Homo sapiens: one gene and its partners. The protein of the gene in region 1 purifies or fractionates together with the protein of each later gene. This does not show direct contact. Each region holds a gene or a part of one and is shown in the gene's direction. Other genes may lie near its edges. The genes, in order: ZNF169, TWNK and CENPB.

Evidence for each region.
Region 2: the proteins of ZNF169 (region 1) and TWNK purify together in Homo sapiens (affinity purification with mass spectrometry; 2 studies listed by BioGRID and IntAct, with this or other methods). This does not show direct contact.
Region 3: the proteins of ZNF169 (region 1) and CENPB purify together in Homo sapiens (affinity purification with mass spectrometry; 2 studies listed by BioGRID and IntAct, with this or other methods). This does not show direct contact.

Annotation. Positions count from the first base shown.
Region 1 is NC_000009.12:94,265,720-94,269,373, forward strand, and holds part of ZNF169 (zinc finger protein 169), read left to right. Parts: intron 1-3,654. UniProt on the Homo sapiens protein: May be involved in transcriptional regulation.
Region 2 is NC_000010.11:100,992,593-100,994,927, forward strand, and holds the end of TWNK (twinkle mtDNA helicase), read left to right. Parts: intron 1-597; coding exon 598-918; 3' UTR 919-1,811; downstream 1,812-2,335.
Region 3 is NC_000020.11:3,784,587-3,788,340, reverse strand, and holds the start of CENPB (major centromere autoantigen B), read left to right. Parts: upstream 1-1,600; 5' UTR 1,601-1,857; coding exon 1,858-3,657; 3' UTR 3,658-3,754. UniProt on the Homo sapiens protein: Interacts with centromeric heterochromatin in chromosomes and binds to a specific 17 bp subset of alphoid satellite DNA, called the CENP-B box.

The DNA of each region.
Region 1 (3,654 bases):
TCTGGAGCCTCAGTAAATTTATTTAATCTAAGTGGGTCCAGGTGCTGGGGTGATTACCCTTATCTTATCTCCTGCTAAATCATGGAGGCTTGGGGAGTTCCCTCAGATCCTCAGTAAACTTGTTTGTGGAGACCTAGGGAGTTTCTTCAGACCCACAATAAAACTTGTTTAATCCTAAATGGGTCCTGTTAAGAATTCCTTAGTTATTTACAAAAAAATGGCTGGGCATGGTGGCACATGCCTGTAATCTCAGCTACTCAGGAGGGTGAGGCAGTAGAATTGCCTGAACCCGGGAGGCAGAGGTTGCAGTGAGACAAGATCACACCACTGCACTCCAGCCTGGGCAACAGAGAAAGACTTTGTCTCAAAAAAAAAAAAAAAAAAAATTCTTAGTTATTTTGTCATGCTTTAAGGCTCAGGAAAGGCCTAGGCAAAATTGTTGATGGGCTTTTGTTACATCCTAGCCTTTGTATAAGGGCACTGACTTTTAATATTTAACTTAACCACTCAGTCAGTACTGAAACAGTTCTTAGTGAGACCTGACCTGCCACAATCCCCACTGTCAATTTGCACATGATTTCTATCATGCTTGTATATTTATTTGTCACAAGAATTGTAGGGAGATGGGGCATTATAATCTTTCTGGCTACTTCCTGCTGAGATGGGGTCGTTGTTACGGAGCATCGAACGCAGCGCTGGAGTGAAAGAGTTCAATTTGTTCCCAGTAGCAGTCTCTGTTTTGGGGGCATAGAGGCAGCGCCTGCTGAAACATAGTAGTGTGCAACAGCAACACATATAAATAGGTTGCCACTGTTTTCTTCTGAAGTTTAAGTTGTCTAGTCTTCAGTTCACAGGGCTTCAAGAAGGCACAGCTTAGGTTTCAGTGGTTTCAAATTAGGAAAAATAGGGAAAAAGGAAAAGAAGGAGGAAAAAATTGAAAACATTATTTTGGAGACCTGTAGACAGAAAAATTAGAATTTAATCCAAATTGTAGAAAATAATAAAAACTGAAAAACATCAGGTGAAACTAGAATTTAACAACAGGTGTACTGTAGTTTTTGAAACATAATTTTTCTCTTTCCAGTTTCCCATTTTTATTAAAAGATAAATCATGGTAGAACTGGTTTGCTTCATTGTACTTGGCCTAATTATTTGTATACAGTGCAGAAAGAATAATTATTTTTCGTGTAGGCCTTTTTTTTTTTTTTAAGACAGAGTCTCACTCTGTCACCAGGCTGGAGTGCAGTGGCGCGATCTTGGCTCACTGCAACCTCCGCCTCCTGGGTTCACGCCATTCTCCTGCCTCAGCCTTCCGAGTAGCTGGGACTACAGGCGAGCGCCACCACGCCCAGCTAACATGTAGGCTTTTTAAATTGGCTTTGATGGAACTTTGTTTCATAGAAGGAATCTGAGATAAGACTTTTTAATGCCACGCCCAGCCATGGATTTGTATCATCAAGTACCTATCAGTTGGGTGAATACCTCTCCTCTTGAGGTTCTAAGGTAACCTGGGGTTCATGGACTGTCAGAAAGTGACATTCTTTACTTACCACAGATCAGAAACCCTGTACAGGGACTGTGTACACAAAATATGAGGCCAGTTTCTAAAGGCTTTCTTGGCTTCATAAGTGAACTTTGATTCCTTAAAGGAGAGCACACCATTCCAGTTAAAGCCTTGGTAAAACAACCAGTTTTTCCAATTGTGTCCTGTTACAAAAGAAAACAGATTCTTATTGCACTTATGCAAATAACTGTATTGCCATAAATTAAGAATACTCACAGATAGTTTCCAAATTCTAGAGGAACCAGGTAGAGAGGAACAAATATGCTCCAAATTTTGTTCATGGGCATACACTTAATTGTTAAAAGCTGTTAATAGCTCAGAAGAAAAGTTTCCTTGACACTGAAAAGCAAAACAAAGGATTAGCAATATTTTAAGCAAAAATGTCAAAAAGGTCATTCCAGTCTATTAGTTCAGTTCATGCAGTTAATTCCTGTTGTGCTTGATATTAATGAACATTTTAGCTCTTCACGAGTCCTGAACGTTTTTCCTCTATTCTGATGTCACAATCTCTAAAGTTATCAGAAACCTGCATTCAAAAGCACCTGTTAGAGCTTTACAGCTGATTATAAAACTGCCTTCTTTTTTTTTTTTTTTTTTTTGAGACAGAGTTTTGCTCTTGTTGCCCAGGATGGAGTGCAATGGTGTGATCTCAGCTCACCGCAACCTGCCCCTCCTGGGTTCAAGCGATTCTCCTGCCTCAGCGTCCTGAGTAGCTGGGGTTACAGGCATGTGCCACCATACCCAGCTAATTTTTTTTGTTTTTTTTAGTAGAGATGGGGTTTCTCCATGTTGGTCAGGCTGGTCTTGAACGCCCGACCTCAGGTGATCCGCCCACCTCGGCCTCCCAAAGTGCTGGGATTACAGGCATGAGCCACCGTGTCTAGCCTATAAAACTGCCTTCTAAAGAGGACTGAAACAAGACAATTGTTTATGGATGACAAAAAGTTTTAGGGTAGCCATAGTTAAAGACACAATTGACAAGGAAATCTGTTAACTCTGTGGTACAAAATAATTTAACATAACAATTATAATTATTACTGATAACATACACTAAAATAGAATTATAGGAGTTTCCCATAACTTTGGAACACATACCAACAATGTATTTATACAAATATAGCCCAAAGAAAGCCAAACATGATTTCATATTTAACAGTGCTTTCTGTATAATTTTTATACCAAATAAGCCCAATTTCATCTTTACATTAGTGTGCTATTAATGTTGGCCTGGCACAGTGTCTCACGCCTGTAATCCCAGCACTTTGGGAGGCTGAGGCAGGTGGATCATGAGGTCAGGAGTTCGAGACCACCCTGACCAACATGGTGAAACCCCATCTCTACTAAAAATACAAAAATTAGCTGGGCGGGGTGGTGGGGCCTGTAATCCCAGCTACTCAGGTGGCTGAGGCAGGAGAATTGCTTGAACCGGGAGGCAGGGGTTACAATGAGCCGAGATCACACCACCGCACTCCAGCCTGGGTGACAAAGTGAGACTCCATTTCAAAAAAAAAAAAAAAAATTTCCAAAGACATTTCTAAGTGTCTAAATTATATGTTTTCCTAAAAACCCCAGAGTAGCTTTTGTTGTAATAGCTATTAATGAAGAAAACAGAATTCAGTCAACAGAGAAGAAAAAACTTTTGCTCAAAAAGACAAGGTCTTAGGAAAGAAATAAACAAAAACATGAAGGCCTTTTAAATACAAACATACACACATGCACACATATATATACACATCTTGGATGTTAGCTTTTATTTAGGCCGACTGTCAACCATTGAGCTCCTAAAAAAAAAAAAATTTTTCCTTCCCAGAGGCCTCTCAGCAGGAATGAACCCAATACCTCCCATTATCAAGTTTACATGGTATCAAAAGGAATAAGACAGATACACAAAGAAGTGGAGACAAATTTTGGACAACACAAGGGGGAGTGCACTCAGGCAAAACAGACTCAAAACCAACTCAAAACCTGATCTCAACCAAAATGCAAAGGGGGTGTATGAGCGAGCCCTCTTGCTTCCCTTGGTGGTACCGGACAAATGGCTTCGCAAGCCCAGACAGGAAAACAGTAGGCTCCTGACATACTATCTGGGC
Region 2 (2,335 bases), on another chromosome or scaffold:
CCTAAAAGAGAAGAAGCTGAGGTTGAGTGGGGTGGCCCGCTGTGGAGAAGGAGAGGGAACAGCACAGGCAGCGTCTGAAACAGTAGCAAGCTTGTCAGGGAACTGAAAGATTTGAGTGGCCCCAGCATCGTGGTCAGTAGTTCAAAGAGCTTTGGTCATGGGGGGAAGTACTTTTCCCTCTCCCATTCTTTCTCTTTTTTTTTTTCTTTTTTGAGACGGAGTCTCGCTCTGTTGCCCAGGCTGGAGTGCAGTGGCACAATCTTGGCTCACTGCAACCTCCGCCTCCCGGATTCAAGCGATTCTCCTGCCTCAGCCTCCCAAGAAGCTGGGACTATAGGTGCATGCCACCATGCCCAGCTAATTTTTTGTATTTTTAGTAGAGATGGGGTTTCACCGTGTTAGCCAGGATGGTCTTGATTTCCTGACATCGTGATCCACTCGACTCGGCCTCCCAAAGTTCTGGGATTACAGGCGTGAGCCATTGTACCCAGCCCCTCTCCCCATTCTTATCACTCCTCCCTGCCCTGTCAGCCCCCCTTTCTGCTTTGCTCATGTCCTCTTACTCCTGCTTTCCTCCTTCTGCCCCCTGTTCCCCAGGCAAGCCAGGAAGCAGACAATGTTCTGATCCTGCAGGACAGGAAGCTGGTAACCGGGCCAGGGAAACGGTATCTGCAGGTGTCCAAGAACCGCTTTGATGGAGATGTAGGTGTCTTCCCGCTTGAGTTCAACAAGAACTCCCTCACCTTCTCCATTCCACCAAAGAACAAGGCCCGGCTCAAGAAGATCAAGGATGACACTGGACCAGTGGCCAAAAAGCCCTCTTCTGGCAAAAAGGGGGCTACGACACAGAACTCTGAGATTTGCTCAGGCCAGGCCCCCACTCCCGACCAGCCAGACACCTCCAAGCGTTCAAAGTGAAGGCCGTGCAGAGCTGGTCACTGAAATGAGCCTGATAGGATAGGCTGGAGCATAAAACTCTGCAAGGGCTCCTCTATCCTGTGGTCCTGAGCTGTGTGCCCTTCTCAGTCTGAGGGGCCTAACCTAGAGCAGGTTTCCATAGTGAGAAAATTCAATGTAGCAGACTACTGAGAAACTACTGTGTTGCTCAGGCTTTGTTTGAGGTCCTGTATATACAGCACTGAAAAGAGAGATAAAGTCCCTGCCTGCATGCATTCTGGCGGAAGAGACAAGCAAGCAATGAACAAATTAGCAGAAAACCTAGTTTTAGTGAAAAATGCTGTAAAGAAAATAGAAATGCGATAGAGTGCTGGCAGGCTAGTGTAGATAAGTGGTCTGAAAAGGTGTCTCTGAGCCGAGGGCATGTGAGCTGGGGCCTAAACAACTAGAAGGAGAGAGCCACGTGAACATCCGGCGAAGGGGACCCAGGCAGAGAGAAAAGGAAATCCAAGCCCTGAGGTAGGAATGAGCAGGTCAGATTCAAGGCAGTGAGGTCAGGCCGCATGAACCTGGAGGGGAATCGGGGACTTCATGCGAAACTCCAGCCTAGGCTTTCAAAGTCAAAGGGTGATACAGTGGGTACCAAGCTCCTCTGCTCCCCACTTTGTAGAGCCTAGCATGAGGTGGCATGTACTAGAATTGGATCCTAGGTGCTTAGCCCTGCAATATCAGGGCCTCACTGGTGGGAGCTGCCTCGGGCTGGGTTGCTTGGTCATAGAGCCATAGAAGGAAGCTGTCAGCCCGGAGTGCCTGCCACCTAGACACTGATGCCATTGTGTGCTGCCTCAAGACTGCTGGAGTCAGGACATTTTATAGAGCCTTTTCCAGTTTTACTAAAAAATTTTTCCATTGCCTTTGTTTCTGTGCTTTTTCTTATTCATCCACCAGGTGTCTCCCCAGTCCGTAGCTGAATTTCCCTTTCGGGATTGGGAATGGACGGGTCCCCTCCCACTGCTTGCAGCCTTTGAGCGGTGGGCTTCCAAGGAAGCAGGGACATTAAAGGGCCTTCACACCCCACCTTCCATTTACATCTCTTCTTGGCCTAGGGAAGACAAGATGATCTGTCCTCATACCTAACTTCCCTGAGGATCTCGAGTGATTCCTGGCACAGGTACTCATCACTGGGCCACATGAGCCCAGTGCCCTGCCTGACTGGCCATTCCTCTGTGATGTGAGCCACTCACCTCTCAAGTGGACTTAGACTCAACATATTCTGTCCACCCCCATCCATCTCCCTCCTGTACCCTCTCCGTGTTTCTCATATGCTAATGCGTGCCAGAACTCCTGGGGACTTGTGAAAAATGCAGAAACTAGGCCCCATTCTCCCCCCATCCTCCACCACGTACATTTCTCATTCTGGATTTGAGGACGGGTACAG
Region 3 (3,754 bases), on another chromosome or scaffold:
CAAAGGATATGACTAGAAAATTCACAGGATTCAAATGGCCAAGAAACATACGAAAACAGAAATTTGCACTAAAACAGCAGTGAGTTACACTTTCTTCCTTTGGCTTCCAGAATGCCACAGTAGCCTGGTTTTTCTCCTGCTTCAGGGGCTCCTCCACTTCAAGAGTCTCTATTTGGTTCTTTCTTTCTTTCTTTCTTTTTTTTTGAGATGGAGTCTCACTCTTTTGCCCAGGCTGGAGTGCAGTGGCATGATCTTGGCTCCCTGCAACCTCTGCCTCCCAGGCTCAAGCGATTCTCCTGCCTCAGCCTCCCGAATAGCTGGGACTACAGGTGAGTGCCACCACACTTGGCTAATTTTTTGTATTTTTAGTAGAGACGGAGTTTCACTATATTGGCCAGGCTGGTCTTGAACTCCTGATCTCAAGTGGTCCCGCCTGCTTCGGCCTCCTAAAGTGCTGGGATTACAGACGTGAGCCACTGCACCTGGCCTCTTTCTTGAGCCCTTAACCTTGGAGGACCCAGGGCACTGTCCTTGGTCCTCTTTTCTTCTTTGTCTACACTCACCCACAGCTTCATCCAGCCCCAGGTCCTCAGCCTGTCCCCCTGGGTCACAGCCTTCCCCTCTGCCAATGCTGGAGTTCCCCTTAGTGCTGCCCTAAGAGATTTTTAAAAACACAGCTATACATTCATTGTTTTAAGAGCTTGGCATTTTAATGTTTTGCTGCAGGAGAGGGAGGCTTCAGGGATTCACACTTATGTATATACATGATGTTATTTCTGTAAGTGCAAACACATACATTTATGGCTATATGCATGGAAAAGCCCAGAAAGTGACACACCAAGATGTTATGAGTGTTTATCTATGGGTTGTGGGATTACTAGAACTTTAAAAATGTCATTAGCACCATCAAATAGATTTACAACTGTAATGCTGATTTTAAAAATAACTTAAGTGTGTAACAATAGGTTACATACGCTAGTGTTCATTCATAGCTGGAATGCTACACAATCATTAAAAAGCGTGTTGGCAATGATACTTACCGATATGGCAAAATTCTCACTACTTGATGCCAGGTAAAACAGCAGGAGATGCCAGATATACAGTCTATACAGTCTGATGCCAGTTTTATATAATAAATTTTTAAAAAGAAAACGACATGCATCTAGAGAAAAGACTGGAAGGAAATGTATCAAAATGTTACCTGTGCATCTCTCCAGGTGACGTGAAAAGCGTTTTTCAACTTCTTGAATTTTTCAGGTTCCGCAAAAAAAAAAGTGCGTTATTTTTACCTTAATTAAAAAAAAAAAAAACAAACAAAAACCCTGGTTCTTATTCTTTTTGAGCAGCAAGTCGCTGTCCGCCGGGCGCAGTAGCGATGCACCGCGTCCCCGCCCGCGTCGCTGCCGGGTCGCCGGAGGCCGCAGCACGGGCAGGTCCAGCAGGCCGCAGCGCCCCCCCGCGGTATGTCCCGGCGGCGGGAAGGGGGTGGGCGCGGAGGGCGGGGAGGAGGCGCCGGGCGTCCCCGCGCTTCCCGCGAGATCCCGCTCCGCCCGCTCCGCCCCGCTCGCCGCGCTCCCAGCTCCCCGCGCCGCGGCACTTCCTGCCTTCCGCGCCCGCGCCGCCCGCCCTCGTCTGCGCCCGTCGCCTGCCGCCCGCCGCCCGGCGACGCGCCCGCCGGCGTCCCCGGAGGTGCCCCCGGCCCGGCCGGGTCGTCGCCCCGCCGCCGCGCCCGCGAGCCGCTTTGTCTCGGGCGGGGCGCGCGGGAGAGGCCGCCAGGTGCCCCCCGCCACGGGCCCGGGCCCCCCGCCCCGGGGCGGCGGCGGCGGCGCCGGGCCCCGGGGCGGGGGGCGCGCCGGGATGGGCCCCAAGAGGCGACAGCTGACGTTCCGGGAGAAGTCACGGATCATCCAGGAGGTGGAGGAGAATCCGGACCTGCGCAAGGGCGAGATCGCGCGGCGCTTCAACATCCCGCCGTCCACGCTGAGCACGATCCTGAAGAACAAGCGCGCCATCCTGGCGTCGGAGCGCAAGTACGGGGTGGCCTCCACCTGCCGCAAGACCAACAAGCTGTCTCCCTACGACAAGCTCGAGGGCTTGCTCATCGCCTGGTTCCAGCAGATCCGCGCCGCCGGCCTGCCGGTCAAGGGCATCATCCTCAAGGAGAAGGCGCTGCGCATAGCCGAGGAGCTGGGCATGGACGACTTCACCGCCTCCAACGGCTGGCTGGACCGCTTCCGCCGGCGCCACGGCGTGGTGTCCTGCAGCGGCGTGGCCCGCGCCCGCGCGCGAAACGCTGCCCCCCGCACCCCGGCGGCGCCTGCCAGTCCGGCCGCGGTGCCCTCGGAGGGCAGTGGCGGGAGCACTACTGGTTGGCGCGCTCGGGAGGAGCAGCCGCCGTCGGTGGCCGAGGGCTACGCCTCGCAGGACGTGTTCAGCGCCACCGAGACCAGTCTATGGTACGACTTCCTGCCCGACCAGGCCGCGGGGCTGTGCGGAGGCGACGGACGGCCGCGTCAAGCCACCCAGCGCCTGAGCGTCCTGCTATGCGCCAATGCCGACGGCAGCGAGAAGCTGCCCCCGCTGGTGGCCGGCAAGTCGGCCAAGCCCCGCGCAGGCCAAGCCGGCCTGCCCTGCGACTACACCGCCAACTCCAAGGGTGGTGTCACCACCCAGGCCCTGGCCAAGTACTTGAAGGCCTTGGACACCCGAATGGCTGCAGAGTCTCGCCGGGTCCTGCTGTTGGCCGGCCGCTTGGCTGCCCAGTCCTTGGACACCTCGGGCCTGCGGCATGTGCAGCTGGCCTTCTTCCCTCCCGGCACCGTGCATCCGCTGGAGAGGGGAGTGGTCCAGCAGGTGAAGGGCCACTACCGCCAGGCCATGCTGCTCAAGGCCATGGCCGCGCTAGAGGGCCAGGATCCCTCAGGCCTGCAGCTGGGTCTCACGGAGGCCCTGCACTTTGTGGCTGCCGCCTGGCAGGCAGTGGAGCCTTCGGACATAGCCGCCTGCTTTCGTGAGGCTGGCTTTGGGGGTGGCCCTAATGCCACCATCACCACTTCCCTCAAGAGTGAGGGAGAGGAAGAGGAGGAGGAGGAGGAAGAAGAGGAGGAGGAAGAGGGTGAAGGAGAGGAAGAGGAGGAGGAAGGGGAGGAGGAGGAGGAGGAAGGGGGGGAAGGAGAGGAATTGGGGGAGGAAGAGGAGGTGGAGGAGGAGGGTGATGTTGATAGTGATGAAGAAGAGGAGGAAGATGAGGAGAGCTCCTCGGAGGGCTTGGAGGCTGAGGACTGGGCCCAGGGAGTAGTGGAGGCCGGTGGCAGCTTCGGGGCTTATGGTGCCCAGGAGGAAGCCCAGTGCCCTACTCTGCATTTCCTGGAAGGTGGGGAGGACTCTGATTCAGACAGTGAGGAAGAGGACGATGAGGAAGAGGATGATGAAGATGAAGACGACGATGATGATGAGGAGGATGGTGATGAGGTGCCTGTACCCAGCTTTGGGGAGGCCATGGCTTACTTTGCCATGGTCAAGAGGTACCTGACCTCCTTCCCCATTGATGACCGCGTGCAGAGCCACATCCTCCACTTGGAACACGATCTGGTTCATGTGACCAGGAAGAACCACGCCAGGCAGGCGGGAGTTCGAGGTCTTGGACATCAAAGCTGAGTCACTGGACCTAGCTGTGCCCCCAACCTAGATTGGCAGCACCACCCCAGGGCAGAGGACTCTCTGGGCACCCGCTGTGCATGGAGCCAGAGTGCAG